Regions from separate parts of the Homo sapiens genome. Here regions 1, 2 and 3 are each linked to region 4. The links come from fine-mapping of genetic effects on gene expression. A gene starts in region 4. Each other region holds a variant in brackets. All regions are shown on one strand. Distances are from middle to middle.

The links. PIP is the estimated chance that this variant, and not a neighbour inherited with it, causes the effect.
Region 1: its variant is the best candidate, but not a certain one, in a credible set for the expression of AVL9 in thyroid (GTEx, PIP 0.82).
Region 2: its variant is the best candidate, but not a certain one, in a credible set for the expression of AVL9 in whole blood (INTERVAL, PIP 0.66).
Region 3: its variant is the best candidate, but not a certain one, in a credible set for the expression of AVL9 in blood mononuclear cells (TOPMed, PIP 0.53).

The regions. Positions count from the first base shown.
Region 1 is chr7:32,741,698-32,749,805 of GRCh38, forward strand. No RefSeq gene overlaps it. Among named protein-coding and RNA genes, the nearest start is that of LINC00997, 13 kb to the right of the region's middle. The variant A/G (reference allele first, on the strand shown) is at 4,577.
Region 2 is chr7:32,781,595-32,789,702 of GRCh38, forward strand. No RefSeq gene overlaps it. Among named protein-coding and RNA genes, the nearest start is that of LINC00997, 27 kb to the left of the region's middle. RefSeq lists an enhancer at 6,455-6,956. The variant C/T (reference allele first, on the strand shown) is at 4,213.
Region 3 is chr7:32,676,583-32,684,690 of GRCh38, forward strand. It overlaps the pseudogene DPY19L1P1. Among named protein-coding and RNA genes, the nearest start is that of MIR550A2, 52 kb to the right of the region's middle. RefSeq lists a silencer at 1,122-1,322 and an enhancer at 4,016-4,774. The variant C/T (reference allele first, on the strand shown) is at 3,284.
Region 4 is chr7:32,491,748-32,499,855 of GRCh38, forward strand. It overlaps AVL9 (AVL9 cell migration associated), which reads left to right and starts at 3,742. Exons shown (of 16, transcript NM_015060.3): 1 at 3,742-4,055. The coding sequence starts at 3,963. It also overlaps a transcript of LSM5 not described here. RefSeq lists enhancers at 3,256-3,465, 3,539-4,337, 4,338-5,136 and a silencer at 3,556-4,205.

The DNA.
Region 1 (8,108 bases), 250 kb after region 4:
TGTATGTGTATGTATATATATGTATGTGTATGCTTTGTTCCCTTTCCTGATGACTCAGTTTCTTCCCACTTGCTTTTTCTGTTTGTTTGGCTTCATTCTTTTGTTAGATATTTTCTTTAAATGTTTGGTGATCTTTGGCCTACTCCTGATACTTTTAAAGTGGGGGGCACTAAAAAGCAAATTGGAAGCTCTCTGTGCATGTAATGTCCTCTGTCTGGGCCATTTTCTTAGGAATATTACTGTCTTTTCTCTTGGGCTGGTCATATTTTCCAGAAATGGCTTTTCTTGCCTGGAAGACACAATCGTTTCTGCTAGTGGTCTAGGAGCAGAGTAAGAATAAGATTGAGAGTCTTAATACTCAAAGTGATACTTTCATTTAATCTCCATATTTAGTATCAATACAGGACCTCTGCCTTCAGCTATTCCTGTTGTCTGCAAGTCTAGAAACTTTTCCCTCTCCTAATAACAAATTTGTAGTAGAGTGCCAGGGTTGGGGTTGCTTAGCTGCTGCAAGTCAGGGAGGACAACTGGGAGATCTCACGGCTTCCACACAGACTGGCGATGAATCTTTCTCTTTTAGGCCTGCCTTCACCCCTGCTTCCAGAGATATCTTGTGCTTGCCAATTCTTGTGCCTGCTGTAAAGCAGTTTGCTTCTCTGCTTTCCTAGTTCTGCAGTGAAAATTATTACTCATTAATTTTCTTTCCAGAGTCTAAAGGTACTGCTTTTTATTTCATCTTCTTGAATTTTTTATAGGCGTATTCCCTTTAAAAATTACATTTTTATCATTTTAGTAGGATGTTTGGACTGAGCGGAAGCTAATGAATGTGTACAACTAATTATCTTTACTTAGAAGTTTTCTTTTTTTAATTGCAGAAGAAATAAGAATTCGCTCCTATAAAAATTTAGATGATGCAGCTGGGCGTGGTGGCTCACGCCTGTAATCCCAGCACTTTGGGAGGCCGAGGCGGGTGGATCACCTCAGCTCGGGAGTTTGAGACCAGCCGGACTAACATGGTGAAACCCTGTCTCTACAAAAATTAGCCGGGCATAGTGATGCATGCCTGTAATTTCCAGCGACTCGGGAGGCTGAGGCAGGAGAATTGCTTGAACCCAGGAGGCGTAGGTTGCAGTGAGCTGAAATCGCACCATGGCACTCCAGCCTGGGCAACAAGAGCGAAACTATGTCTCAAAAAAAAAAAAAAAATTCAGATCATTCAAAAAAAGTGAAAGTCACTTTCAGTCCTCTGGTATGAACATGTTCAACTAGTCCTCTAAGGAATCTAATGGTTTTCAAGCTTTTTTTTTCTTTTTTTTGAGACAGAGTCTCACTCTGTTGCCCAGGCTAGAGTGCAGTGGCACCATCTCGGTTTACTGCAACCTGTCTCCTGGGTTCAAGCAATTCTCCTGTCTCAGCCCCCCAAGTGGCTGAGATTACAGGTGTGTACCACCATGCTTGGCTAATTTTTGTATTTTTAGTAGAGACAGGGTTTTACCATGTTGGCCAGGCTGGTCTCGAACTCCTGACCTCAGGTGATCTGCCTGCCTCGGCCTCCCAAAGTGCTGGAATAAAGGAACTGTGTATTAACATGTTAACAATTCATAACTGCACTTCTTATGACATTTTGAAAATCTATGTATAGTTACAGAACAATGGGTTTTGTTAAACTATCACATTTATACTTGCAGAAATTATTTCATCATTATTAGTAGGAATTTTATTGGTTCAATAAAATTGGCAAAACTGAAAAAAAATAGAAATTTATATCTTACAATTCTGGAGTCTAAGAATTCTGGAGTCCAAGAAAGTCCAAGATCAAGGCGCTAGCAGATTTAGTGTCTGGTGAAGACTGCTCTCCACTTCCAAGACGGTGCCTTGATGTTGCATCTTCTGAAGGAGAGGAACACCGTGTCCTCACATGGCAGATAGTAGGAGAGTAAGAGAGCTTTAGTCACACTCATGAGGGGGGAGTCCTCATGGCCTACTCACCTCTTGCAGGTCCCATCTCTTAATACTATCACATTGGCCATTAAGTTTCAACACCTGAATTTTGGAGGGGACACATTCAAACCATAGCAGTGCCCACTGGCATTTCTGGATTGCCAGCCTCTTTAACTCCAAATCTGAGAAAATGAGGCACAAAGAGAGCCCATGGAACTCATAACCATGTTATTCTTTGGGTCTCAAGTCTGTCTTCTCTCTACTTTTCAGTCTTCTTATGTTTGATTTGTATATAACTCAAAGGGTTTTCAGTTGTACTTCAAGGGAGTAATCAGGAAAAGTACATCCACTCCGTCTTCCCAATAGCAAACATTTGTATTACTTAAATATTTATATATCGTATAGGCAAGAGAGAAGGCAATGCTGTGAGGGAAATGTATGGCACTAAAATGAATATGTTAGAAAAGAGGAAAAAAATCAATAATCTAAGCGTCCAGTTAGGAACCTAGGAAAAAAAGAGCAAAATAAACTGAAAGCCAGTAGAATCAAGGAAATAATAAAGAGTAGAAATCAATGAAATTGAAAATAGAAAAATAATAGAGAAAGCTGTATTAGTCTTTTTTACATTGCTATAAAGAAATACCCGAGGACTGGGTAGTTTAGAAAGAAAAGAGGTTTATTTTTGCTCATGGTTCTGCAGACCGTACAAGAAGCATGCATGGTACCAGCATCTGCTTCTGGTGAAGACCTTAGGAAGCTTATAATCATGGTGGAAGGCGAAGGGGGAGCAAACAAGAGAGAGAAAGTTTCCAGTGGGGAGGGGGCAGGTCAAGACAGAGGGAGCAAGAGAGAGACGAGTGAGGTCCCAGATTCTCTTAACAATCAGATCTCACATAAACTTACAGAGGGAGAACTCCCTTATTACTGTGGGGTGGGAACCACGTCATTCATGAGGATTCCACCCCCATGACCCAAACACCTCCCACTAGATCCCAGCTGCAACACTAGAGATCACTTTTCAACATGAGATTTGGAGGGAACAAATATCTAACTATATGAAAAGCCAAGGGAAAAAAGGAGCTGGTTCTTCAAAAAGGTCAATAAAGTTGACAAACCTCTAGCAAGACTGACAAAAAAAGAGAAGACACGAATTATCCATATCCATGTCAATGAAACAGGGGCTATCACTGCAGACTCTGCATACATCAAAAAGATAATAAGGGAATACTGTAAACAACTCTACACACTTAAATTTATCAATTTAGATGGAATATACCAATTCCTTGAAAAACTCAAACTATTGCCATAAATAAAATCAATATAAAATAGATCATTTAAATATTTCTATAACTATTAAGAACTTGAATTCAAATGTAGAAATTCTTCAAAAAGAAATCTCTAGACCCAGGTATTTTCACTAGAGACTTCTGCTAGAGGTTTAAGCAATCATTAACATCAATTCTATACAATCTCTTCTGGAAAAGAGAAGAGGAAACACTTCCCAATTCTTTACCTCAAACTATTATTACCTTGATACTAAAACCAACAAAGTACCAACAGTATCAAAACAAAGTAAACTTCAGACTAATATCCCTTGCGAATATAAACACAAAATTCCTAAACAAAATTGCAAAAATAGATTTCAATAATATATTAATTATATACCATGACCAAATGAGGTTTTCTTCCAGGGATGCAAGGCTGTTTCAATATTCAAATACATCATATTACATGTTAACAGGCAAAATAAGAAAAATCACATAATCATATAAATTGGTACAGAAAAAAAATTTGAAAGAATTCAATACCCATTCATGGTAAGAACTCTCAGGAAAAAAAAGAAATAAAAGGGAGATTTTCTCAACTGTGTAAAAATCACGTGCAAAGAACTTGTGGCTAACATTGTGCTTAATGATTAAATACTGATGCTTTCTCCTAAGGCTGACAACAAGGCATGTATGTTCACATTCACCACTTATTAAACACAGTGCTAAAAGTTTTAGTGCAAAAGGCAAATAATGGAAATAAAAAGCATACAGATTAAAAAGTAAGAAATAAAACTGTCCCTATTTGCCCATGCCAGAACTATGTAAAAAATCCCAACAAATCTAAAACAACAACAAAAAGATAACCACAACAAAATTCGTAGAACAAGTGAGTTCAGCAAAGTTGCGTGATAAAAGATAAACATAAAAAATGTATTTTATGTGCTAATGATGGACACCAAAATTAAAACTATAATTCTATGACATGAAAAACTTAAATGTATATCTAGCAAAATACATATAAGACTTAGATGATCAAAACTATACAATGCTGATGAAAGGAATCAAAGGTGATCTAAATAAATGAAGAGATATACCATGTTCATAAACTGGAAGATTCAGTAAAGATGTCAGTTCTTCCAAAATTGATTTACAAATTTAATGCGATTCTTATCAAAGTCCCAACAAGATTTTTGTAGATATAGCATGTTGTAAAATATATATGAAAAGGCAAAAAAGAACCTAGCCAAACCAATTTTGGAAAAGAATAAAGTAGGAGGAATCAGGCTACTTGCTTCTAAGACTTACTGCATAGATGCGTTAATTAAGACTACTGGCCAGACACAGTGGCTCACACCTGTAATCCCAGC[A/G]CTTTGGGAGGCTGATGTGGGCGGATCACTTGAGGGCAGGTGTTCAAGACCACATTGGCCAACATGGTGAAACCCAATTTCTACTAAAAATAAAAAAGTAGCTGGGCGTGGTGGCATGTGCCTGTAATCCCAGCTACTCAGGTGGCTGAGGCAAGAGAATTGTTTGAACCCAGGAGACAGAGGCTGCAGTGTGCTGCGATCATGCCACTGCACTCCAACCTGGGCAACAGAGTGAGACTCAGTCTAAAAAACAACAACAACAACAAAAACCTATATGGTATTGGCAGAGGGGTAGATGCATAAATCAGTGGAAGAGAACAGAGAACCCAGAAATAGACCCATACAAAATATGTCCAATTGACATATTTGGCAGAGGCACAAAAGCAATTCAGTGAAGGAAAGAAAGGAAAGATCCACTTTCAACAAATGGTGCTGGAGTAATGAACATCCATATGCAAACAAACAAACAAACAAACAGAATCTTGACCTAAATTTCATTCAAAATGGATCAGTTAGATATAAAATGCAAAACTCTTAACCTTTACAAAAAATACAGGAGAAAATCTTTATCTCTAGGGCTAGGCAAAGAATCCTTAGACTTGACACCAAAAGCACAATCAATAGGAGAAAAATGGACATACTGGACTTCATAAAAAATTTAAAATTTTTCTATGCAAAAGACCCTGTTTAAGAGAATGAAAAGGCAAGCTACAGACTGGGAAAATTTTTTGCAAGCCATATATATGAAAAGTAATTAGCATTTATAATATATAAAGAACACCCTAAGATCCAAAATTCATAAAACAAACAATTCAAATAGAAATGGAGCAAAATACATAAAGACACGTTTCACATATGGACGGCAAATAAGCACAAAAAGATGTACATCATCATTAGCCAATAGGGAAATGTAAATTAAAACCATAATGATATATCACTACATATGTGTAAGAATGAGTAACATAAAAAATAGTGACAATACCAAATGCAGGTGAGAATACAGATAAACCTAATTTTGGTTGTGCTTAGGTTGTATCCATTGACTACTGAGTATGTAGCAGAAGGAAATTTGCATAGTTTCATTCATTCAACAAATATGATATTGAATCAACTCCATATTCCAGGAAGTAGGCACCTGGGATACAGATAGGAAATACATAATGGGCATGGGAAAACAGTAGAAAACAAGGTCATTCGCTGAGCATGAAAGGGGGAGAGGAGGTTTGCGATAACTGGAGAGAGAAGATATAAAACAGGCGTCAAGGGGTTAGCAAAAGTAAGGCTCAAGAACTAAATCAGGATCTGTGGCCTATTTTTGTACCAGTAATGTGAAAAGGACAGTGTTTTCCCCCAGCTTTCCCGCAGCAGTTTAAGCTAAGAGAGTTTAAGACTTACAGGGGAGATAAGGAAGAGGGGGGTGGGTGGGTTTCATGCCTTTCTCTAAGTGGCTGCTGTTCTCCCAGGCTTTACCATGGAGGATGCTTTCTGAGCACTCTTGCTAATCTTTTGTCAGCACCTTATGAGCTCTGTGTAAAAATGTCTGTAAGCAATTGCAGATTCCCTTGCTAACCCATACTAGGCATTTACCGACTGACTGGTGAACAATTTGAGCTGAGTTCTTTACCATTGTGTCTAGTGGCATGACCCGTATAATTAAATGCTTGTTTCTGTTCTTGCACATGGTTTTTCTTTTTAATTTATTTTGGGTTATTTGATTGTCCTGTGACCTCAGCTCCCTGACTGCTTCAGGAAAAGTTGTCAATTTGAAGACTGTCTGGCTTTTGTTGTTGTTGCTGCTGACATTGCTGGAAGGCCATGAGCAATGTTCTTTTTGGCTTTCTACATCCAAGGGAAAGCTGACCCAACATGATTAAATCCAACTCTCCATTTTCTCCGTGTTTATACTTGGGAATCTGATTATAGCTGGAGAAACACAATTCTGTTGGCTGGTTTTGTTCTCAGTTCAAGACCATCAACCTCAAATGAAGCCCTTGGTGCTGCCCAAGAAACTCACATTATATCCCTAGTCTATTCATTCTGTTAGAAAAGAGATCAGCAAGCTTTTCCTATAAAGAGCCAGACGATAAGTATTTTAGGCTTTGTGAGATAGTCTCTGTCTCATACTCTTTAATGTGTTTACATTTACCCCCAGGTTTGTATATGCATGTTTGGTTTGTTTATCTATTCATTCATGCATTTGTTTGATATTTATCCTTTTTGATGTTCTCTGAGTTTCTTGGATCTGTGGTTTGGTATCTGTCACTAATTTTGGAAAATTCTCAGTCATTTATTTTTCAAATGTTTATTCTTCCTCATCCTTTCCTCTCCCACTGGGATTCTAATTACGCATGTATTAGAATATTTGATATGGTGTCACAGCTCTTAGATGCTCTTATTGTTTCCTTCCTCCACTTATTTTTCTCTTTGCATTCCTATTGACCTATCTTCATACTCACTGATTATTTCTTCTGCTGTGCTGTGTCTGCTGATGAGCCCATCTAAGGCATTTTTTACTTCTTGTTTTTATTTCCAGCATTTCCCTTTGATTCTTATAGTGTCCAACTCTCTGCTAAAATTATCTATCTGATCTTGCGTATCATCTGTCTTTTCCATTTGGGTGTTTAAAATATTAATCATAGTTACTTAAATCTCCTGTCCAGTTGTTCCAGTATCTGTATCTTCTTGGGGTCTGGATGATGACTGCTCTGTCTCTTCGGACTGTGCTTTTTCTTACCTTTAGGTATGCCTCATAATTTTTGCTGAAAGTTAGACATGTTGTATAAGACAGTAGACATAGAGGTCAGTATTTTTATGCTTGAAAATAAGAACATCTTTCTTACTGTTAGGTCTTTATTGTAGGTATTTGTGTTAATCTAGTTAGGGTGGGCGGGATTTGAAGTTTGTAATTGCTGTAGTTACCAAAGCTGGAGTTTGTTGCTGCTATGGATACTAGCGATTTCAAATTCCTCTAGTGGTACCCTGTTTTGAACTTGGTTTTGGGCTGTCCTTTGTGCTGCTCCCTAGAAAGAAAATGCCTTGCAAAACTCACTCAGTCACATTCCACTGTGATTTTTACCAAAGGCTTGTTAATGTAATGGGCGAAGAGTGGCAGGTTTTCTGATGTTCCAGTTAAGCCTCAATCTTAGACAGGTACTGTGAATTTGGGACTTGGGGGCTGTACCCTTCATAAGTGTTCCCTTCTCAAGGAATATGATTGTTTTTTAACATTTAGGTTTTTTTTTTTTCTTTTTTCCTGCCTGTTCTCTTTCACCAGCTTCACTGGATACCCACCAGTGTCCTCAGACAATGGGTTTGATACCGTTCTCCCTGCAGATCATGGCTTTCTTTTCCTTAGGAGAGATTTCACAACTTGGGTGTGAGCAGAGTCTGAGCAATGATTGCTTTTCCTGTCCCCTAGCCAGCACCATAGGGAAAGCTTTCTCTAAATGCTTCCCCAATCTTCCCTGACAGAGCCTGCTCGCCTTCACATTTCATGCCAGCTCACACTAAGCCTGTAGCAGTTCATTAAAAA
Region 2 (8,108 bases), 290 kb after region 4:
GGACAGTCATTGCATTTAAAGCTCCAAAATAATCTCCTTTGACTTCATGTCCCACACCCTGGTATGAGGGGTGGGCTCCCAAGGCCTTGGGCAGATCCACCCCTGTGGCTTTGCAGTGTACAGCACACATGGCTGTTCTCAAGGGTTGGAGTGGAGTGCTTGTGGCTTTTCCAAGCAGAGTTTGCAAGCTGCCAATCTACCATTCTGGGGTCTGGAAGGCAGTGGCCCCCTTCCCATAGATCCACTAGGCAGTGTCCCAGTGGGGACTCTGTGTAGAGGCTCCAATCCCACATTTCCCCCTGCCATTGCCCTAGTAGAGTTTCTCTGTTGGGGCTCCACCCTGCAACAGGCTTCTGCCTGGGCACCCAAACTCTTCCATAATCCTCTGAAATCTAGGTGGAAGCCTCATTCATGCTTACATTCTGAGCATCTGAAGACTTAACATCATGTGACAACTGCCGAGGCATGGCTTGCACCCTCTAGAGCTGCAGCCCAAGCTGAACCTTGGTCCCTTTGAGTCATGGCAGAAGCCAGAGTGGCCAGGATGCAGGGAGCAGTGTGGCAGCACAGGGAAGCAAGGCCCTGGGCCTGGCCCCCTAAGCCACTTTTCTCCTAGGCCTCTGGGCCTATGATGGAAGGGACTGCCCCAAGACTTCTAAAGTGCCTTCAAGGCCTTTTTCCCATTGTCTTAGATATTAACACTTGGCTCCCTTTAGGTCAGGCTAATCTCCCTAGCAAGTGGTTGCTCCACAGCCTGCTCGAATTTCTCTCCTGAAAATGATTTTATTTCCTGCACATGGCCTGTGTATTTGTCCATTTTCATGCTGCTGATAGAGACATACCCGAGACTGCATGGTCTATACAGGAAAAAGGATTTAAGGGACTTACAGTTCCACATGGCTGGGGAGGCCTCACAATCATGATGGAAGGCAAGGAGGAGCAAGTTATGTCTTACATGGATGGTAGCAGGCAAAGAGAGAGAGAACTCCTCTTTATAAAATGATCAGGTCTTGTGAGACTTATTCATTTTCATGAGAACAGCACAGGAAAGACTTCCCCCCATGACTGAATTATCTCACACTTGGTCTGTCTCACAACACATGGGAATTCAAGATGAGATCTGGGTGAGGACACAGCCCACTCATATCAGCCAGCATGAAAATTTTCCAAACTCTTAAGCTCTGCTTCCCTTTTAAATATAAGGTCCAGTTTCAGGTCATTTCTTTGCTCGCACATATAAGCATTGGCTGTTCGAATCAACTAGGCCACTTCTGGAACACTTTGCTGCTTAGAAATTTCTACTGCTAGATACCCTAGGTCATCACTCTTAAGTTGAAACTTCCACAGAGCCTTAGGGCCTGGACAAAATGCAGCCAAGCTCTTTACTAAAGCATAACATGGGTGACTTTACTCCAGTTCCTAATAACTTCATTTCCATCTGAGACCTCATCAGCCTGGACTTCAATATCTCTATCAGCATTTTGGTCACAACCATTTAGCCAGTCTACAAGTTGCAAACTTTTCTTCATCTTCCTGTCTTCTTCTGAAACTTCGAAATTCTTCCAATCTCTGCCCATTACCCAGTTCCAATGCTGGATCCACATTTTTAGGTATCTTTATAGCAATGCCCCTCTCCTCAGTACTTATTTTGTATTATGCCATTCTTGCATTGCTATAAAAAAGTACCTGAGGCTGGCTAATTTATAGAGAAAAAAAGGTTTAATTGGCTCATGATTCTGCAGGCTTTACATGAAGCATGGTGCTGGCACCCGCTTCTGGGGAGCCCTCAGGGAGCTTACACCATGGTGAAAGGTGAAGGGGGAGCCAATGTGTCACATGGTCAGAGCAGGAGCAAGAGAGAGACAGAGGTATCACACTCTTTTAAACAACCAGATCTCACATGAACTACCAGAGCAAGAACTCACTCTTCACCAAGTGGATAGGGCTAAGCCATTCATGAGGGAGCCACCTCCTACCAGGCTGCCCTTCCAACATTGGGGGTTACATTTCAACATGAGATTTGGAGGGGACAAACATCCAAACCATAACAGAGATGAATGCCAAGACAGCTGGACTAGGTGGGGCAAGCCAGGAACAGGCTTCAGAAACAGCCTAGGCAGGAGGCAGGAAGACAAGACGGCAGGAAGCAGTGCAGAACAAAGCAGGCTCCTCATCATTCAACCTCCCCTGAGTGCAGCAAAGGGGCCTTATTGTCAGCCCCTAACTGATCATTGATAACTAAAGTTACAACAACTCATACCTGTAAGGGCCATGGTGAGTTAGAGCTGGCAAGAGCCCTAATGATACACAGTCTTCTCTTGAAAGAGGAGAAGACTGAGGCCCAGAGAAGTGAGTAAATTTCCCAACAAGCAGAGAGTTGAGACTGGAATCTGGCTTCCCACCCCAGCCCAGTGCTCTTGGAACCAGAGGACGGTCCTCACCCAGTCAGCTAAGGGGAGCCTTGGCATGCTGGCCACCACCAGCCCAGTGATGCTAGGAAAGTTGCAGTGCTTATCTATCTGTGTGTGCCTCCCTTTGTTCAAATGTAATGTAGAAACAATAATACTGCCTTTCAGGATCTTCCTGTAAGAATTAAATTACTTAATATTTTAAAACATAGTGGTGTCATATTTGAGCTCACATTACCCTAAGATTCACCCTACCATCAGGCTGCTACAAGGAATTCAAAGATTCCTGGGTAGAGACCTGATGAAAATGGGCACCGGTTAAAATAAAAAAAGGAGGGATAATTTGGGGGTGGGGGTGTCATTTACATTGTCCCCAGGTCCTACCCCTGGAATTGCGCAAGGGCCACAATAGTCAGAAATGGATTATTTCATGGGATGTTCAATGAAACCTCAGTTAAACCGTGAGACCATCTTGTCTTATTGCTTAAAACCACTGAAAGCTGAAAGGGTTAGATTTATGGAGCTTCTGGGTAACATCCTCTGAGGACCCTAGGAATGGTGAATGAGGGAGGAAGGGAGTAGGGAGAGAATAATTTAAACAGAGCAGAGCCAGGCAAACTCTCCCTGCATGAGAAACTAACAGGAAAACCCAGGTCCCATGTGAGTACCAAGTTAAAGGACCCCAGCAGGCCATGTTGGTTCCCTTTCCCCTTTCTGGACTTACTGCTCCATCAAGGCTAAGCAGACCATTGGCTCTCCCTTTTCCTCTGTTCTCCTGGCTCCCACTACCTCTGCTTTTTTCAACAACAGATGTATTTTTCAAGGATCCTGCTCCTGGGAAGTACTTCTAGCACTTCACTTATCTCACCTGATGCACTATACCTAATTATCAGCTTAATTGCCTTCTTCCACCACTGACCAGTTACAATCAGGTATATTCTATCTTCGTCCCTGTGGCATTATCGCTCCAAAACAATAGTAGACACTGCATATTTATTGGATGAATGAGTTAATGAACGAATGCTTGGAACTCTTCCTGACAATCAAATTCAGGCCCTAGTCCCACACATAAGTAATTAAAAGTCGAAGTGACCATACTGAGCAAGTTCCTGAGCTCTTGCTAGTAAAAACAGGGCCCTTGGAGCAACATTGGTTTTTCTCAGAAGCTTATTAAAAATACAGACTCTCAGGCTGAATCTAAACTTGCATTTTAACAAGATCCCCAGATGATTCCCACACATTGAAGGTTAAGAAGCCCTGTTCTAAGGGGTAACGTCTTCCAGAGAGCTTAGCTGCTTCCAGTGCCCTACCTCAAGGGTCTGATTCAAGGAATGAGATGGAAGTCTGCAAATGCAGGCAGATCACTAAGGTTTCTGGCCCTGGGGCTCCATCATCAGTCTACCCTCCACTCCAGATTGGCCTAGAGATCCCCAAGTGTGAGGCAAGGAATCAAGCGCTCCCTGAGAGGGTGTCAAGCCCCAGCGCCTCCTGGAGGCCTCCAGCTGTGCAGAATCATGCTCTTGGCAGCACCTGGCTGCTATTGTTAGGAGAGAATGAGGAGCTGCGAGGACAGTGGCACTGTACATGCTGACTAAAAGGCGGGGCTCCTATCTGCATTTGGAATGACATACCCGATTCTATTTGGGAAGGAAACACAATGGCCCTTTACTACAGGATTTGAATGGCAGGAACCAGCTAAATGGACTAGGAAATGATTAAGAGACAAAAGTCAAGGCATTGTGTGTGCACCATGCTTAGCCCAGTCCTGAAAGCCCTATTATAATGGCCACTGTTCCTGTAGCCC[C/T]TCCTGAGCCCCACCACCCTCCTCAGAAACACTGTGGCTCCTTGGACACACTGCAAGGCCTATTTGTCTCTCCTCAAGGAAAAGGGTGGAAAGCTACAGCAAACTTTGCCAGGGACTGGGAGGGATGGTGAGGCAGGGAGAGATGAAGGGGCAAAAGACAGGTGGGACAGGAGGTGACAGCCATAGACCACAAGCGGATCAGGGAAGGATGCAGACGGCAGAATTTGCAAATGTTGTACTGCAGCTTGGAAGAGAGGAGAGAAAGAAGGGGGCAGGGAAATATCCACTGCTGTCCCACATCATGGGGCAGGATGTCAGGAAGCCCAAGTTCAAAACCCTTGCCCCACATACTGGCTATGTGACTAAGGCATTTTGCTTGTGCTTTCTGGATCTCCTTTTCCTGGTCTGCAACATGCAGATGCTGATATTAGCCGTATGTGGTGATATGCCAATGAAATTAACTGAAATGAAGCATAGGAAAGTGCTTAGCACAGTTCTTGACACATAAACTGTCAATTCTAGATCAGAAAGAACAAGAAATTGCTTCCTTTGCCTGTCAACTAGTACATACCGCACCACCCCAGTCCTGCCCATGTCACCCCCTGAGAAAGGCTTAAGGCATGATTCATCTCAACATATTAGAGGTTGGTGCAAAAGCTATTGCACTTTTTGCCATTACTTTTAATACAACCTAATATTTGTATTTAAGTGGGGACTTCAAAAGAGTCAATGGCTTCTGTTTCAAAAGAAACACTCGGCGGGGCGCGGTGGCTCACACCTGTAATCCCAGCACTTTGGGAGGCCGAGGCGGGTGGATCACGAGGTCAGGAGATCGAGACCATGGTGAAACCCCATCTCTACTAAAATACAAAAAAATTAGCTGGGCGCGGTGGCGGGCGCCTATAGTCCCAGCTACTTGGGAGACTGAGGCAGGAGAATGGGGTGAACCCCGGAGGCGGAGCTTGCAGTGAGCCAAGATGGCACCACTGCACTCCAGCCCGGGAGACAGAGCTAGACTCTGTCTCAAAAAAAAAAAAGAAAGAAAAGAAAAGAAAAGAAAAGAAAGAAAGAAAGAAAGAAAGAAAGAAAGAAAGAAAGAAAGAAAGAAAGAAAGAAAGAAAGAAAGAGAAAGAAAGACTCTCTAATCATGGAAATGGTATCAGGAGGTCCGAGAAGGACCTAGGCTGATATCTCTTGAGTCATGACCGCAATGGGACCACTTTCCTACTCAGCCTCTGTCTGAGACCATTGAATATGATCTGAATCCAGCTTTCTTTGAGCAAGGTTAGAGAGAAATGCTCTGACAGCAGAAAAAGACTTGGAATGCCAGGAGCTCTGCAGCATGACTCCAGCAGTGGGGGTCAGTGGGTGGCAGGAGTCACTGGGGAATCAGGCCTGGGAGAGTCAGGGCTGCAGGTCACATGGCAGAGCCTGAGTCCCCCATACAGACATACAACCTGGGCCTGCCCCCCACTCCTGGACAGTAGAGACCCGTAACCACTGCTCCATAGGAGTTGGGAAGTTAGAAGGTCTACATTTGGTTCATGAACCACAAGATGGGGCCACCAAGATGACAATCATTCTGATAGCCAAAAGGATCTGGATCTCAGCATGGAGAGTGTAGCCACTGAGCACTGATGAGCCACAATTCTCATGGGGTGGGGCCAGGAAGGTAATGTTCTGACAGGTGGTGGGACTTGGATGCATGGGGGTGTGGGGGTGGCAAGAGCACAGAGCCAAGCTGAGATCAAAATGGTGGCCCTTAGGGCCCCTTATCCAAAACCTGACACAAAGAGGGTGGCCCACTCCTGCCTCCTTGCAGACAGTCTTGAGGAGAGGGCAGTGGAAGACAAGACAAGGGCTTCTAGAGAGAGTGTGGCAGCCAGGCCGCGGATGTTGGGACAAGTGTCACTGCACTATTTGGGGGTCTGGGAAGGGGATGGAGGTCAGGGTCAGAGGCACAGCCTCAGAAAAGCTGGACGGAGCAATAGTGAGTGCCCAGGTAGCAGACTGCACATGCCTGATGAGGACTGGTCCACCCACTCAAGGAGTCCAGGGAGACCAGAGGCAGAGGGGTCAGTTGGCTGAGAGGCGGCCGTCAGGGTAGAATTGGTGACAGATATGGGAGAACATGTTGGTGCCCATTAGAATCATAAAACTGAAATGGCTGCAGAATCACTAGAGTAATTCTAAAGCCTCCAGGGAGGCTTTGAGTCAGGTGCTCAAAGATCCTGTCCACATTCAGCTGGAGTGGCCACAATGCCAGTCGTCACTTCAAAACAGACACCCAGAAGAGGCAGCAGGGCCCAGCCCTTAGGAAAGAGTTGGAGAAGATGAATGAAGCAGAGCTGTCACCCAAAATAAAAGGCTATTTGTGGTGGTATTAAGTACAAAGTGAAGAACCAAGGTGGGAGGTAGACTATATCTTATGAGAAATGACCACAGTGAGGTCACACATTCCTTCCTTTTATGCAAATAGGAAGACCCAGGTCCCTATACATTTCAATAAGCCTTTCTTCTTTCCCAGGGTCATCCCTCCCTGTAAGCTCCAGGAGGCTGCGCTAATGCTCTGCCCTCAAAGAGAGAACTGGAAGGGTATTTGGCCAGGTGTACCTTCCTGGGCTCTTCCAAGGTGACAGCTCTCACCCTGTGCTGCAGGTGGCCCTGTGCCTGGTGCCACTTCTCACTGCTTACCAGGGCACATGGACACCGGTGGTTCCCAAAATGGGTCACAGCAGGATGGCCTGCATCAGAATCACCAGGGAGGGCTATAAGAAGGCAGACTTCTTCTTTTTCTTTTCTTTTCTTTTTTTTTTTTTTTTTTTGAGACAGAGTTTACTCTTGTTGCCCAGGCTGGAGGGCGATGGTGCGACCTTGGCTCACTGCAGCCTCCACCTCCCAGGTTCAAGCAATTCTTCTGCCTCAGCCTCCCCAGTAGCTGGGATTACAGTTGCCCACCACCATGCCTGGCTAATTTTTTGTATTTTTAGTAGAGACGGGGTTTCACCATGTTGGCCAGGCTGGTCCCAAACTCCTGACCTCAAATGATCCACCTGCCTCAGCCTCCCAAAGTGCTGGGATTTCAAGTGTGAGCCACCGCACCCGGCAAAGAAGGCAGACTTCTAAACCTAGAAATTCTGATGCAATAACATGTAGGAAAGAGCCTAGGAATTTGCAAAAATGTTTCAACCCCCAGACAATTGTGAAGCACGGCCAAATTTGGAAAATATTGATCTACACAAAACAATGCAACTATCCAAATATTAAAAATGACTTCACAAAAGATAGCTAAGAGTTTGTGTCCAATTTTGTAAATATATAAGCAATATACATTGTGGTATATAATAAATGTATAACTCCGATTCTATAAACACACACACACATGCGCATATATCTGAGTTGTAGGATGATAGAGGTTTTTCTTCTTTATTCCTTTCTCAGTTGACTTTCTATAATAAACACTTATTCTGTTCATAAAGAAAATATGATTTTGTGAGTGCTGGGGAGCAGATTATGACATATTTGGACTCCCAGAGAGGCTTAGCTCAGATTCCGTGTGTGGGTTTCCTAAAAACGCAATGCCTCCCAGCGAGGCGTGCTGTCCCCTTCCTTTCTTCTGGAGAGTCTTCGTATGTGTTTGTTTCAATACACTCTTCATTCTGACTAGCAGACTGCACGGCTGGCTTTTGTAAATGAACACTCATTTCGCTCTATTAAATTAATATATTGACTTTTTTTTTCCACAGGAGTTAAGGAGGAGATCGGGGCTGGGGGGCTGGGCATGCATTCAGGATAGGGCTCTAGTCAGCAGGAAATGAAAGAGCTGAGCAAGGAAACTGAGGTTGATATCAACATGGTGGGGAGGAGAGGCTGCTGTGCGGAGGCTCCCCTGTGCT
Region 3 (8,108 bases), 180 kb after region 4:
TGAGTCTTAGTAGCAGAGGTCCCTGAAATCATGGAGATAAACCAGCCCCGCTAAAGCCTGCCCAAATTCTGGACTTGCAGAATCCATATGCATAATAAAATGGGTGTTGCTTACACCACTAAGTTTACAGTGTTAAGTTTATTATGCTGGATAAGTTTATTACGTTACAACAGATAACTGGACAATATTACAGAACGAAACTTACCTTCACAGCTTTCAGTAGGACTGAGTCCTTCTCCTCTGGTAACCGTCCGACATATCTTGGTTTGAATTGCAATGAAGTCCATTATTTTGGTATAAATCCAGTACCAGCTGGCCAAAATTACCTATTTTTAAAAAATATAGTGGTATCTTAAGAAAATATACCAAACAATTTTCATTACTAGAATACTTTTGAGATATTGTGACAATTGCCATATTTTCCCTTTCTGTACCATCCACTTGGCTCCCTTTAAATCTAGTAAAACGAGGCTCAGAATCTCCTAGGCAGATTCTTCACTGGTCAGTTTTCAATTGTTCATCCATGGGTAAGGACAAAATATGGGCCAAAAAAAAGTGCTAAGTTTATGTTTTTCAAAAACTATACAACTCTACTAAGAGATACAAAAGAGGATTTGCTCAAGTAAAAGATACTGGGTCTACTGGAATAGACCAAATTATTTAAGATTTGAATTCTCCCTCAAATTAATTGATAAACATAAAATAATTCTAATCAAAATTCCAAGTGCCTAAAATGTATCTAGAAAACTAACAAGAAAACTAAAGGGAATGTTTTAACAGATATTAAGTCTTATCACCTTTAATAATTAAAATAGTGTGATACTGGCACAAGAATGGCTAGACAGATCAATGTAGCCATAGTACAGGTGGTGATAAGCCACCCCAGATGCCCTCTTCCAGGCTGAGGCAATCATTCCTCCAGCTAGTTGGAAGACTGGTGCCTGAGAGCTCGAAGCTGTGTCCCTCCCTGGGAAGAAATTAAATTCACTCAAAGTGACACCCCCTACCCAAGGGCAATCTGCATCCAATGACGGACAAGTCAATAGGGAAAGATACCAGGGGCCCTTATGTCAAGGTAGGACAACTCTGCAAGGCCATCCCAGATCCAGAGCTGCCCAGGGACTGGATGAGGCCTTCACAGTGACTGCATCAAAGCTCTCCTCTTCCTCCTGCCTATTCTGCTTCATTCATCCCTCTTCAAGTGTTGACCCTAAGGACACTCCCTCAACTACTTCCTGCATGCAAATCTCCATCTCAAAGTCCACTTCCCATGACCTCAACCTAAGAAATACTGAGCACAAAATCCAGAAACACATGAAAGCACGTATGTATAACAATTTTGCACATAAAGAAGAAAGCTTACTTCAAATCAGTGGAGAGAGGATGGACACCTCATCAGTGTTAGGTTACACACAATACTATTTTCAAAGAAAAATTCAAGGTTAGATTCCTACCCCACACTATGCATCAAAACCAATTCCAGATAAATTAAAAATGTAAATTTAAAAAAAGTTATAATTATAAAAATGAAGTTTTTTACATGTATGTATAAAAGACAAAAAGATTCATAGATATATTTCTGTATAAAAAAATACACAGACATCATACACAAAGCTAAAGGGCAAACAACTGGGAAAAATGTTTTATTATATAGCATTATATTAATATCCAGTATATAAAATTTTAATAGAAATATAGATGAAAAGCATGAATTGGTAATTAATTTTAAAAGTAAAAATGCATTATATGTATATGTATGTGTGTTATACATACATATATAAAGAACACTGAAATATATCTATAATCAATGAATGAAATACATCATGTGACTTCAATTTCTTTGTCTATCCAATCAACAAAGATGCAGGTAAATAAATAGTTTCGAAAACACTCCTGGTGGATAGTTGAATATCTATCCGGAAGGTCTTCTGACAAAATCATTAAAGTATATATTCTACTGAACTAGAGTTCCACATCAACAAATTTATAGTTTTGCAAGGAGGATAAAGGAAAGGCCAAATGCCATCTCCACTTGCTGGATCGGGCTCACCTTCCCTCCACTCCCACTCAAGAAAGTGCACTTAATTAAATGAGGATAAGGAAGAAAACATTTAACAAATGACATATAAAAGTAACAGAGCTCCCTTAGTATAATCCTTGTAAGCACACCAAATCTAGTTTTTGTATTTTTTAAACAATGCAGTCACAACAACAGTTCCCCACAGAATTAAAGCCCCCTCCTCAAAATCAGTAATGATGTTTTTTACATATTCCTCCCCAAGATACATATTTTCTTTTAAAAAATTAAATACAATTTAATATATTGAATTATACCTTAGAGTTAGAATCAGCATTTAATTCAAAAAAGTTTTACAAAAGTGAAAAATCACAATTGGAAAAAGTACCTTACCTCAGGGTAAAGATTGAATCTTTTTAATGTATTAATAACAAGGGGGTATTCAGTCAGTTTATCATTCATAATCATCCATACTCCATTCAAAAATGAGGGTGTTTCCACAATAGTCTTGAAATAGGAATAATACAGTCCCTGAAATAAGGATATGCTCAGTTAAAATAACAAAAGGTACATAATTATGATGCCTCTTCGAAGTAAATATACTGTTTTTGAAAAACAAAGCAATTAAGCAACTAATAGCTATTAAGACAATGAATTTCACAGGTTTCTGACCATTGATAAATCCTAAAGTTGCGAAAAAACTACGTATTTTCACATAAACTTGTCTTAATTGAAATAACTGAATGCAAAATAGCTTCAACAATAGTTTCAGCATTTAAAAAATAATATGACTCAGCATACTTCAACTTAGAAAATCCTATTACCCACACTAATATAACTGTTAGAAAATGCTATCTTATGAATAGAGTGAGTGGTTTCTTACGGAACTAAAATTTATCATTAACCAAGAAATCTTAAGCCAAAAATGCTCCTCTAACTGCTTATGTTAATCCCCAAAATGACACTATCAATCATTTTTCCTCCGGATTTACATGGAAAAATGCAAATGTGTTGAGAAGGCTACTCACTGATGTATTATTACATATGAATTTCACTCGGGTGCCACCTAATTTTGCAGATTATTTTCCCTCCTATCAAGTCAGCATAAGGTAAGAACCCTGCGTGACTGGGGATGAGGGTGGGGAGTGGTCCTATTTTGAAGAAAAGAGTTTTTTAGCTTGGCACACTGCTTTGGAAAGATAGCAAGGGTGGAAAATTACGTGAGACAAAACAAGAAAACACTAGAAGCCTAACGGAGAGTCTAAG[C/T]GGCAGTATGAGGGAAGACAGAGAAACACAAGATAAATCTACGTCTTGTATTTGCATCTTCAGTTTTGTCTGGAGCTGCCCTGGTAGCCAGTACCAGTAGCTGCCAAAGTTTAAACCGGGTTTAAGACTCACAAATACAAAAGTGAGATGCCTACCCAGAAATTTACTGAAAAAGAAAAAAATGGTCTTGATACTCTGATGTATTAGCTCTGATATCACTATTTTTAAAATTATGTTTCCTTGTGAACTGATTTGGATACTGTCCCCTAAAATTTCATGTCCACCAGACCCTGTGGATTGATCTTATTTGGAAATAGGATTCTTGCAGACGTGATCAAGATGAGGTCATATTGGATTAAGGTGGACTCTAAACCCAACACAACTGGTAAATCTAAATAAAGAGGAATATTTGGCCTCAAAGCTACAGGCACACAGGGGAAAAGGCTGTGTGAAGATGGATCAGAGACTGCGGTGAGGCATCAGCATGCCAAGGAATTCCAAGGATGGCCAGCAGCCATCAGAGGCTGAGAGGAGGCAAGGAAGGACTCTCCCCTCCAGCCTTCAGAGACAAGATGCCCATCAACACCTTAACGTCCCACTGCAAGTCTCTGCAACTGTGAGAGAATACATTTCTGCTGTTTTAAGCCACCTAGCTTGTTGTACTTCTTTATGACAGCCCTAGGACACTATACCTTCCTTCTTTTGTAGGTTTGCTTTTGGAAACATATCAAAAATTTAAAAATCCCTAAATATCAAAATAAAAATGAAAGAAAGGAATGAACTATTTATCAACTTGGGAGAAGATTTCAAATAACATTAAGATACTGTAATTTTACTGTATATCCCTAGTGGACTATATCCTAAGGTTAAAATGGAGCCCAGGAATCTGGCACGACTGGTTTCACAAGTTACAGGTCACAAAGACCCTGCTGATAATACAGGATGTGGTAAAGAAGCCGGCCAAAACCCGCCAAAACCAAGATGACAACTAAAGTGACCTCTGGTCATCCTTATTGCTCATTATAATATATTAGCATACTAAAGGAAACTCCCACCAGCAGCATGACAGTTTACAAATGCCATAGCAACCTCTGGAAGTTACCCTATATGGTTTGAAAGCGGGAGACACCCTCAGTTCCAGGAATTCCCCTCCCTGTTCCCAGAAAACTCATGAATAATCCACCTCTTGTTTAGCATATGATGAAGAAATAACCTTAAAAACAATCAACCAGCAGCCCTCACAGCTGCTCTGCCTGTGGAGTAGCCACCCTTTCATCCCTTTACTTTCTTAAGGTAAACTTCTTTTCACTTCACTCTGTTGGAGCATTCTTGAATTCCTTCCTGCCCAAAGCCAAGAACCCACATGGCCTCCTGGGCTCAACCCCAATTCTGGGGGTTGCCCTGTGAAGAACCAAACTGCACGAAAATCTTAAACTCTTTTCAGTAATCACATAAATGATGGCTATTATTATTATTTTTAGTAGTATTTGACTATCCATTTATTCCATGACCATTGCCCGGGTTTCCAATGCTCTTCAGACTTATTTTTCTTTGATCACACGTCAGTGAGTCCATGGCCAAAATGAGTCTATCTTTGGCCCTACTCTCACATTCAGATATATTCTACACTTTCACCTGAACTTGGGATACTCCATGGATTGCTGGTCCTACCTCAATTATTTTTCCTGCTTGTTCTCTGCCTTATTTGTCCTTCTACTTCCTGAGCCCCTAATTTATTCATGTGAAAAAGCAAAATTGCACAATGTAAATTCTGTGAGAACAGCTTCACTCTAAGGTAAATTATAATGTCTTGTATTATTCAGGAAATGACTGGATGTTGATGTTCATATATATCATCTACTAAAATGATAGAATGAATGCTTTAGACACTCTAGAAATAGATTGTTCTATTTTTCTCTACTTGACTGATGATTTCTTGGGATCAGAACAGATATTCACAATATTAAAACCACAGTAAATGGTTTTGTGGTTGAAACCAATGACAAATAATTTTTTGTCTTTGAATCTGATGTCCTCCACATGTACTCTCTGGGATGGAAATTTCTTTAGTGGTACTGTCAAAAGAAGCATCAGAGAGACATTAGACAGAGATGACCTTTCCATGAATTTTAAGAGGAAGACTCTGATATGGTTTGGCTTTGTGTCCCCACTGAAATCTCATCTTGAATTGTAATCCTCAGGTGTCAAGGGAAGAACCTGGTGGGAGGTGATTGGATCATGGGGGCGGTTTCCCCCATGCTATTCTCATGATAGTGAGTGAGTTCTCACGAGAGCTGATGGTTTTAAAGTGTTGTACTTTCTGGTGCTCTCTCTCTCTCTCTCTCTCTCTTGCCTGCCCCATGTAAGAAGTGCCTTGCTTCCCCTTCACCTTCCACCATGATTGTAAGTTTCCTGAGGCCTCCCCAGCCATGCAGAACTATGAGTCAATTAAACCTCCTTTCTTTATAAATACTCAGTCTCTGGTGGTATTCTTCATAGCAGTGTGAAAACAGACTAATACAGAGAATTGGTACCGAGGTAGTGGGGCACTGCTATAAGAATGTGGAAGCAACTTTGGAAATGGGTAACAGGCAGAGGGTGGAACAGTTTGGAAGGCTCACACGAATACAAGAGGATGAATGAAAGTTTGGAACTTCCTAGAGACTTGTTGAATGGTTTCGACCAAAATGCTGATAGTGATATAAATAATGAAGTCCAGGCTGAGATGGTCTCAGATGGAGATGAGTAACCTATTGGGAACTGGAGTAAAGGTCACTCTTACTATGCTTTAGCAAAGAGACTGGCAGCATTTTTTTCTTTTTTTTATATACTTTCAGTTTTAGGGTACATGTGCAAATTGTGCAGGTTAGTTACATAAGTATACATCTGCCATGCTGGTGTGCTGCACCCACTAACTCGTCATCTAGCATTAGGTATATCTCCCGATGCTATCCCTCCCCCCTCCCCCCACCCCACAACAGTCCCCAGAGTGTGATATTCCCCTACCTGTGTCCATGTGATCTCATTGTTCAGTTCCCACCTATGAGTGAGAATATGCGGTGTTTGGTTTTTTGTTCTTGCGATAGTTTACTGAGAAGGATGATTTCCAATTTCATCCATGTCCCTACAAAGGACACGAACTCATCATTTTTTATGGCTGCATAGTATTCCATGGTGTATATGTGCCACATTTTCTTAATCCAGTCTATCATTGTTGGACATTTGGGTTGGTTCCAAGTCTTCGCTATTGTGAATAGTACCGCAATAAACATACGTGTGCATGTGTCTTTATAGCAGCATGATTTATAGTCCTTTGGGTATATACCCAGTAATGGGATGGCTGGGTCAAATGGTATTTCCAGTTCTAGATCCCTGAGGAATCGCCACACTGACTTCCACAATGGTTGAACTAGTTGACAGTCCCACCAACAGTGTAAAAGTGTTCCTATTTCTCCACATCCTCTCCAGCACCTGTTGTTTCCTGACTTTTTAATGATTGCCATTCTAACTGGTGTGAGATGGTATCTCATTGTGGTTTTGATTTGCATTTGTCTGATGGCCAGTGATGATGAGCATTTTTTCATGTGTCTTTTGGCTGCATAAATGTCTTCTTTTGAGAAGTGTCTGTTAATATCCTTTGCCCACTTTTTGATGGGGTTGTTTGTTTTTTTCTTGTAAATTTGTTTGAGTTCATTGTAGGTTCTGGATATTAGCCCTTTGTCAGATGAGTAGGTTGCGAAAATTTTCTCCCATTTTGTAGGTTGCCTGTTCATTCTGATGGTAGTTTCTTTTGCTGTGCAGAAGCTCTTTAGTTTAATTAGATCCCATTTGTCACTTTTGGCTTTTGTTGCCATTGCTTTTGGTGTTTTAGACCTGAAGTCCTTGCCCATGCCTATGTCCTGAATGGTAATGCCTAGGTTTTCTTCTAGGGTTTTTATGGTTTTGGGTCTAACGTTTAAGTCTTTAATCCATCTTGAATTAATTTTTGTGTAAGGTGTAAGGAAGGGATTCAGTTTCAGCTTTCTACATAAGGCTAGCCAGTTTTCCCAGCACCATTTATTAAATAGGGAATCCTTTCCCCATTGCTTGTTTTTCTCAGGTTTGTCAAAGATCAGATAGTTGTAGATATGCAGCATTATTTCTGAGGGCTCTGTTCTGTTCCATTGATCTATATCTCTGTTTTGGTACCAGTACCATGCTGTTTTGGTTACTGTATCCTTATAGTATAGTTTGAAGTCAGGTAGCGTGATGCCTCCAGCTTTGTTCTTTTGGCTTAGGATTGACTTGGCGATGCGGGCTCTTTTTTGGTTCCATATGAACTTTAAAGTAGTTTTTTCCAATTCTGTGAAGAAAGTCATTGGTAGCTTGATGGGGATGGCACTGAATCTATAAATTACCTTGGGCAGTATGGCCATTTTCACGATATAGATTCTTTCTACCCATGAGCATGGAATGTTCTTCCATTTGTTTGTATCCTCTTTTATTTCCTTGAGCCGTGGTTTGTAGTTCTGCTTGAAGAGGTCCTTCACATCCCTTGTAAGTTGGATTCCTAGGTATTTTATTCTCTTTGAAGCAATTGTGAATGGGAGTTCACTCATGATTTGGCTCTCTGTTTGTCTGTTATTGGTGTATAAGAATGCTTGTGATTTTTGTACATTGATTTTGTATCCTGAGACTTTGCTGAAGTTGCTTATCAGCTTAAGGAGGTTTTGGGCTGAGACAATGGGGTTTTCTAGATATACAATCATGTCATCTGCAAACAGGGACAATTTGATTTCCTCTTTTCCTAATTGAATACCCTTTATTTCCTTCTCCTGCCTAATTG
Region 4 (8,108 bases):
ATAGCCCTTTTAAACATGAGCTGTTATTACTTATCCTTGTTTTCTAATACATGATGTCTGGCTCAGAGTGAAGCTACATAAAGCTAGCATTGCTAGCTGGTTTTGCATTCATCTTATTTTTATAACCAGACATAAGCCACTTTAAGGAAGCAATTTCTTATTTTATACACTGTGCACACTACATTTTCAGGCACACTGTAGGGCGCCTAATGAATATTCTTTAAATTGATTCTCACTATTTCATTCACACCCATCAACATTCTCCTTACTCTTCATAAGATTTTAAATACGAAGTAATGCCAGATTTGTTTGTGACGCTTCTTTCTTTCTCTTTCTCTTTTTTTCTTTTTGTCCAATCCTCATTTGGTTGAAAACCACCTCTTTTCCTGGTTTTCCTTTTCTATTCCTATTTTATTTTCCCCATACCATACTGACAGTATGGGAGAATTCAAAACATTGTTGTTATTTGATAGAGTTTTTAAAAATTAGAAAAATAGGCTGGGCACAGTGGCTCACGCCTATAATCCCAACACTTTGGGGGCCGAGGTGGGCGGATCACGAGGTCAAGACATGAAGACCATCCTGGCCAACATGGTGAAACCCCATCTCTACTAAGAATACAAAAATTAGCTAGGTGTGGTGGCACACGCCTGTAGTCCCAGGTACTCAGGAGGCTGAGGCAGGAGAATCGCTTGAACCTGGGAGGCAGAGGTTGCAGTGAGCCAATCGTGCCACTGCACTCCAGCCTGGCGACGGAGTGAGACTCCATCTCAAAACAACAACAACAAAAAAAAAACAGAATAAACATTAGCAATTTTGAATGCCACTAATAAAGAATAAAGAAAATCTCTTTAGAATCTGAAAAAAGGAACGATATATAGTTCACTTACATAGTAGAGTTAATGGGGATTTCAGGGAGTGGTATTTTTATTATTTTCTCTCCTGAGGCAAGACACAAAAAGGAAGAACAGGCCAATTCCAAATGGAGAGTTGTTATGAACTTGAAAATATGTCATAGCTCTATGTCTCAAGGATTTTTCTCCCTTTAAGTCTTAAGTAGAAGACGTAAAATAGAATTTATAATTTATCATAAAATACATGTAACTACCAAAGGCTCTTCCATGTATTATATGTTCAGAAAGGCATTTCTAATTTTCTCCCTCGAGTTAAATTAGAAATTTTATTATTTTCCCAATAGACATTTGTCCTTGTGGACAATATCTTGTTAATGAATTTATTCTACATTAATACAACTCATTTAAAACATAATGTAAGATGTGCATGGTGGCAGGCAACTGTAGCCCCAGCTACTTAGGAGGCTGAGGCAGGAGGATCCCTTGAGCCCAAGAGTTTGAGGCCAGCCTGGGCAACATAGCAACACCCCATCATATTTTATTTATTAATTTAGAGACAAGACCTCACTCTGTTACCCAGGCAGGAGTACAGTGGTGTGCTCGCGGACTCAAGCAATCCTCCCATCTCAGCCTCCTGAGAAGCCAGTACCACAGGCGCGTGCTACCAAGTCTGGCTATTTATTTTTTATTATTTTTTGTAGAGATGAGGTCTCATTACATTGCTCAGGTTGGTCTCGAACTCTTGGACTCAAGTGATCTACCCACCCTGGCCTCCCAAAGTGCTGAGATTACAGGTGTGAGCCGCCATGCCCCACCTATATTCTAAATTCTTAAGTGGTCCAGTCTGTGTATTTAGAGATGAAAAAAATCCTGGAAATTCCCTTGTTCACTTTCTGTCTCAATTTTCCCAGTAACTAACTTTTTCTTTCTCTCTCTCTCCCTTTCTTTATTTTTTTGAGATGGAGTCTCATTCTGTCATCTGGGCTGGAGAGCAGTGCAGTGACACCATCTCAGATCACTGCAACCTCCACCTCCCGGGTTAGGGTGATTCTCTTGCCTCAGCCTCCCTAGTAGCTGGGATTACACACACCACCATGCCTGGCTAATTTTTGCATTTTTAGCAGAGATGGGGTTTCACCATGTTGCCCAGGCTGGTCTCCAACTTTTGGCCTCAAGTGATCTGCCCGCATCGGCCTCCCAAAGTGCTGGGATTACCAGCATGAGCCACCACGCCTGACCCTCTTTTTATATATATCTTTTTTTTTTTTAGAGGAAATCTCGCTCTTGTCCCCCAGGCTGAAGTGCGATGGTGCAATCTTGGCTCACTGCAACCTCCACCTCCCGGATTCAAGCAATTCTCCTGTCTCAGCCGTCCGAGTAGCTGGGATTACAGGTCTAATTTTTGTATTTTGTACTAGAGAGGGGGTTTTACCATGTTGGCCAGGCTGGTCTAGAACTCCTGACCTCAGGTGATCTGCCTGCCTTGGCCTCCCAAAGTGCTGGGATTACAGGCGTGAGCCACCACACCCGGCCCTTATATACATCTTTAAAAGGTGTTCAATTAGACAGTAATTTTAGCCATGCCAATTGTGGAAAATATCAAGACAGGTTATATCAAGAAAATATTAATAGTTAACACATCACACAGCTGACAGCTCAAAACAGTTAATATATTAAGAAAACAGTTAATATATTCTGCATACAGGGAGCAATATAGTTTTACACAGTTTTCTTAGCCAATGCCAATAATTTTGTAATACAGAAAAGAAATGTATAGCAGCATCTTGAAAAATGTCTGCAGTATTAGCATTAAAACAGTTCTACTGAATCACAGAAACTAAATTTGATTTAGGAAGCCTACTGTTTTTCTCAGCTATGGTTAGATTAGAACAGAGCTCCTTACTTTTCAAGACCAGAAGTGCAAAATATCACAGTTACTGTAGTAATCTCGAATTCTATTTGAAGCAGACACCTATCCTTTAGGTTATTTGAAAACTGTCCTAGATAAGACTTGTTAAATCTTTTCTATAATGCACTTTAAATTGACATGAGATTCACTGCTTAAAAAAGAATTGTAGTACAATCAGTAAAGGAATTAAAAAACCCTGGTGACAACAGAGCCCATATATTTTGTATTGACCAGAGTACTACACCCAAAATGAGATGGAATGAAAAGAATATTCTTATAAAATCGCAGGACTAGAATAATCATTTTACACGTATCCAAGTAAACTTCCTTTGTTGTCAAGGATATTCTGTTTCAGGTTTTAAATGCGTCTCAGATTCCTACACATAATATTTAAACGAAGAAAAAAAAACTCTAGAAAGAAACAAACAAGAATTCTCGAGTAAGCAAGTAATTTAAAGGCTGAATACACAGATACGCAACCTCACCAGTATGCTCCATGTTACTACATATTTAAGAATAAGGACGGGGGCCACAGAGGCAAAGGCAAGGAGGTGAAGGAATCGGACACTCGGAGAGTGAACCGAAAAGATGTGAAAAAGCAAGGAAAACAGAAGAGAAGAGGGAAGTGGGAAAACTTTGAGGAAAAAGAGAAGGCAAAAGAGAAGGAAGTGCTTTGAGATTGAATCCAGGGAGGAAAAAGCAGGTGTGCCACGCCGCACCTCCAGGTCCCGCGGACACCACAGGCTCTGCAAGCCCAGCCGCCCGGGTCACGTAAGCCCCACCCCGCCGCTCCTCGTCAAGTCCCACCCGGACCCGCCCTCCCCCCGCTCCTCCCCCCGCTCCTCCCCGCCCCACAGAGTCGATCTCTCCTCTCCTAGACCCACCCCGCTCCCCCAGGCTCCACCTCGGCCTCTCAGACCCCGCCCCGTCAGGGCCCTCCCGGCCTTGCCCAGCCCTGCCTCGCCGGCGGCGGCCGCCGTGTCAGGTGACAGCCCGGAAGCTGCGGAAGCGGATGAGGGAAGGGCGGCCGTGGCCCTGGGGGCGGCGGGAGCTGCTTTGCCTCCACCGATCTCCCTGTGCGGCCCTCATGTGCTGTGCTCGCTGACACCCGAAGTCCGCGGCTTTCCGCACACGGTGGGGTCGTCAGACCCGCTGCCCTTGGCGGTCGAAGTCGTCGTGCGGGCCCGCGGCGGCCGCCCATGGAGAAGGCCAGGAGAGGCGGGGATGGCGTCCCCCGGGGGCCCGTACTGCACATCGTGGTGGTCGGATTTCACCACAAGAAGGGCTGCCAGGTGAGGAAAGGGCCCGCCCCCGCCCCCAGCCGTTCGGGCGTTCGCCCCTTCCGGGGCCCCCCTGCCCTGCTTCTGTGTGCTCAGCTCGCGTCGTGCAGTCCTCCCCACAGCGCCTGCGACCCTTCGCCTCTCAACCTGACTCCTTTTGCAGCTCCTCCCACCCGCCCCACATGAAGCCCAGCCCCCACAACCTCTTCCTTCTGCCCCTGAAAAATGGTTGAGCAGCGGAGGAGCTGGTTGATACGTGTAGGTTGTAGGTTTTTAACTTCTGCTTTGGTGGAGTGGGAGGAAAGCATCGAAGACCGGCCCCACTCTCTTCCCCGTCCATCATTGTCTCCACTGGCTTTCTGGGTGTCCACCTATAATGGGAGTCTAGAAAAATTCAGTGCTTGGACTCTGCTTTCAAGGTAATAGGCTCAGTGGGCTTGCATACTAATGCTTCAGGTAGCTTGCAGCACATGCAGCCTCCGTAGAAAAATCAGCTTCCTTTGTTTATCTGATGGAAGCCTTGGAATCTCTCCTGTTAGGTACGGTTGTCGATTGACTTTGCCTCCCCCTTCCCATTGGTCCTTAGTTTTGCTATTTCATCTTCTCCAGATTTTGCCTTTTGGTGAGAGATTAATCTCTCCATATCAACCGCAATAAGAGAAAGTGTATTACCAAACCGTTCAAATATAAAGGCGTTTTTCAGCAGCCTCACTGAATCATTAATGCAGCATCTGAAATGGAATATTTGCAATCTATGTATTGAAGGCAAGAGAACAAAATAGAAACAGGATTATTTAATGAGCAAGCAAACACTGGAAGGGAATGATGTCATAATGTGCTAGTGAACAGTAAATTGAAATGCTTTTTTGAAGTATTAAAAATAGTAATTGCCACCACTAGCTAATGAAGCATTTAGTTTCTTGCATTCCACAGGAAATGTAACATTTTAGAAGACTTATTGGCAAAAATTAAGTTCTCTAGGGAATAAGAGAAAAGTGATGGGAGTGAAAAAATCGTGTTTGTGCGTAATTTTGAAATATATCCTCACACCTGGAATGCCAGCACTTTTAGAGACTGATATGAAAGGCTCACTTGAGCCCAGGAGTTTGAGACCAGCTTAGATAACAAAGGGAAACACTGTCTCCACAAAAAAATTAAAAAATTAGTTGCATGTGATAGCGCACTTGTAGTCCCAGCTACTCGGTAGGCTAAGGTGGGAACATCGCTTGAGCCCAGGAGGCTGAGGCTACAGTGACCCTTGATCCCACCACTGCACTCCAGCCTGGGTGAGAGAGCAAGACCCTGTCTCAATCCCAGCACTTTGGGAGGCCGAGGCGGGTGGATCACCTGAGGTGAGGAGTTCGAAACCAGCCTGGACAACACGGTGAAACCCCGCCTCTACTAAAAATACAAAATTAGCTGCGCGTGGTGGCACATGCCTGTGATCCCAGCTACTTGGGAGGCTGAGGCACGAGAATTGCTTGAAGCCGGGAGGCAGAGGTTGCTGTGAGCCGAGATCACGCCATTGCACTCCAGCCTGGGCAACAAGAGCGAAAAAAAAAGTTTTGGAAAGTGTGTGTTACATGCATAAGTCTTAGAATGACTGGTCTAGAATCTGTTCTTTATAACCTGTACATCAGGTGTTTTCAGAGGCTTTAATTAAAGTATGTAAGATTTGCCCCAGGATAGATTAATCAGCTACCTAATTCTCCACTTTAACTATTTTACTTCCAGGTGTAAATTAAAGGTGCATGGCTCATTGAGTTGTGACTCTGACTTAACACGGTTTTAACTTGTGTGAGGGTACTTAGACTGCTCTTCCAAGTATTCAAAATTGCCGTGGGTCATGTTGACCATTAGTTCTTTTTTTTTTTTTTTTTCTTCAGATGGAATCTCACTCTCTCACCCAGGCTGGAGTGCAGTGGAGCTCGGCTCACTACAAGCTCTGCCTCCTGGGTTCACACCATTCTCCTGCCTCAGCCTCCCGAGTAGCTGGGACTACAGGCGCCCGCCACCGCGCCCGGCTAATTTTTTGTATTTTTAGTAGAGACGGGGTTTCACAATGTTAGCCAGGATGGTCTCGATCTCCTTACCTCGTGATCCGCCCGCCTCGGCCTCCCAAAGTGCTGGGATTACAGGCGTGAGCCACCACGCCCAGTCATGACCATTAGTTCTAAATGTGCGCTGAGATTGTGCATAGGGAAGATTCCTATACTTGGTCGTAATTTGTAACTTTTAAATAGAAGTGACTGAAGTAAAACCTTTGTTTTAAAAGTGATGCCTTTCAGCAGTCCGCTTGGTTAAGCATGATAACTTTGTCATTTGACATGGACCTCAAAGTAAAAGCCATCTTCTAATACTGCTGTGTTGAAGACCCAAAACTAGGCTTGTGGAAAATGTTAGTTCATTTTGTTTCTAGCACTTTTTCCACCTTTGAAGTCCTCAGATTTTTTTTTTTTTTTTTTTTTTTTGAGACGGAGTCTTGTTCTGTCACCCAGGCTGGAGTTCAGTGCAGTGGCGCGATCTCCACTCACTGCAACTTTCACCTCCTGGGTTCAAGTGATTCTCCTGCCTCAGCCTCCCAAGTAGCTGGGATTACAGGCATGCACCACCGTACCTGGCTAATTTTTTATATTTTTGGTAGAGACGGGGTTTCACCATGTTGGTCAGGCTGGTCTAGAACTCCTGACCTCAAGTGATCCACCCGCCTTGGCCTCCCAAAGTACTGGGATTACAGGCATCAGGCCAGATGTATTTTAAATGAAAAATTCCTTCATTTGAATTTAAATGAACATCTATTAACTTTATCACTTGATCTTTTTTTTTTTTTCACTTTTATTTGGGTAACTTGTGGAAGTAAATTCTTCTGTAGATAGCGTGTTAGCTTCTAGATGTCATTTTTCTAGTTTACTGATATACTTAACATTTAGAACATTTTAAGTGATTTTTTTGAGTTCTACCATAACATTTAAAGTTGTTTCAAAATATTTACTCATTTCAACTTTTTACTGAATTGTTTAAAATTTAATATTTAACAAGGGATAATAATTAACAAGGGATAATTTAACATTTAACAAGGGATACTAAGTGTGGCCGGGTGCAGTAGCTCATGCCTGTAATCCTAACACTTTGGGAGGCCGAGGCGGGTGGATCACCTGAGGTGAGGAGTTCGAAACCAGCCTGGACAACACGGTGAAACCCCGCCTCTACTAAAAATACAAAATTAGCTGCGCGTGGTGGCACATGCCTGTGATCCCAGCTACTTGGGAGGCTGAGGCAGGAGATTTGCTTGAATCTGGGAGGCGGAGGTTACAGTGAGCGAAGATCTGCCTACTGCACTCCAGCCTGGGCGACAATGAGTCCCTGTCTCAAAACGAAACAAAACAAAAATTTATCTGACATTAGACCCTTTGGCATGAAATAATTTATGGATACCTTCTCTGTAGTAAATTGGCTTGTTATAGATTGTGTATTCCAGAGTTTTGTTTGTTCCAATATATAAATTATACTTGTCGGACTACCAAAATTTTTTGCTAAGTAGCATCAAATATATATCACATTAACTCTGTTTTTTTTTTTCATAAACAGGTTAGAACTTTTTTAACTACTCAAGTTAAAAGGGAATAGGTTATTTTCCAAAGTGATGTCATAAAAAGTTGAAATAATTACTTAATTTTTGGCCACTTTTCTGATAGTTTATTGTTTTGTATACATAGCTAGCAGTTTTAAGTCTTAAGTAAACTGGATTTACCAAACTGTATTTCTAATACAAAAAAGGCAGAATAACAATTTTTTTTTTTAATTATACTTTAAGTTCTGGGATACATGTGCGAAACATTCGGGTTTGTTATATAGGTATACATGTGCCATGGTGGTTTGCTGCATCCATCAACCAGTCATCTAGATTTTAAGCCCCATATGCATTAGGTATTTGTCCTAATGCTTTCCCTCCCCTTGCCTCCCATCCCCCAACAGGCACCAGTCTGTGATGTTCCCCTCCCTGTGTCCATGTGTTCTCATTGTTCAACTCCCACTTATGAGTGAGAACATGTGGTGTTTGGTTTT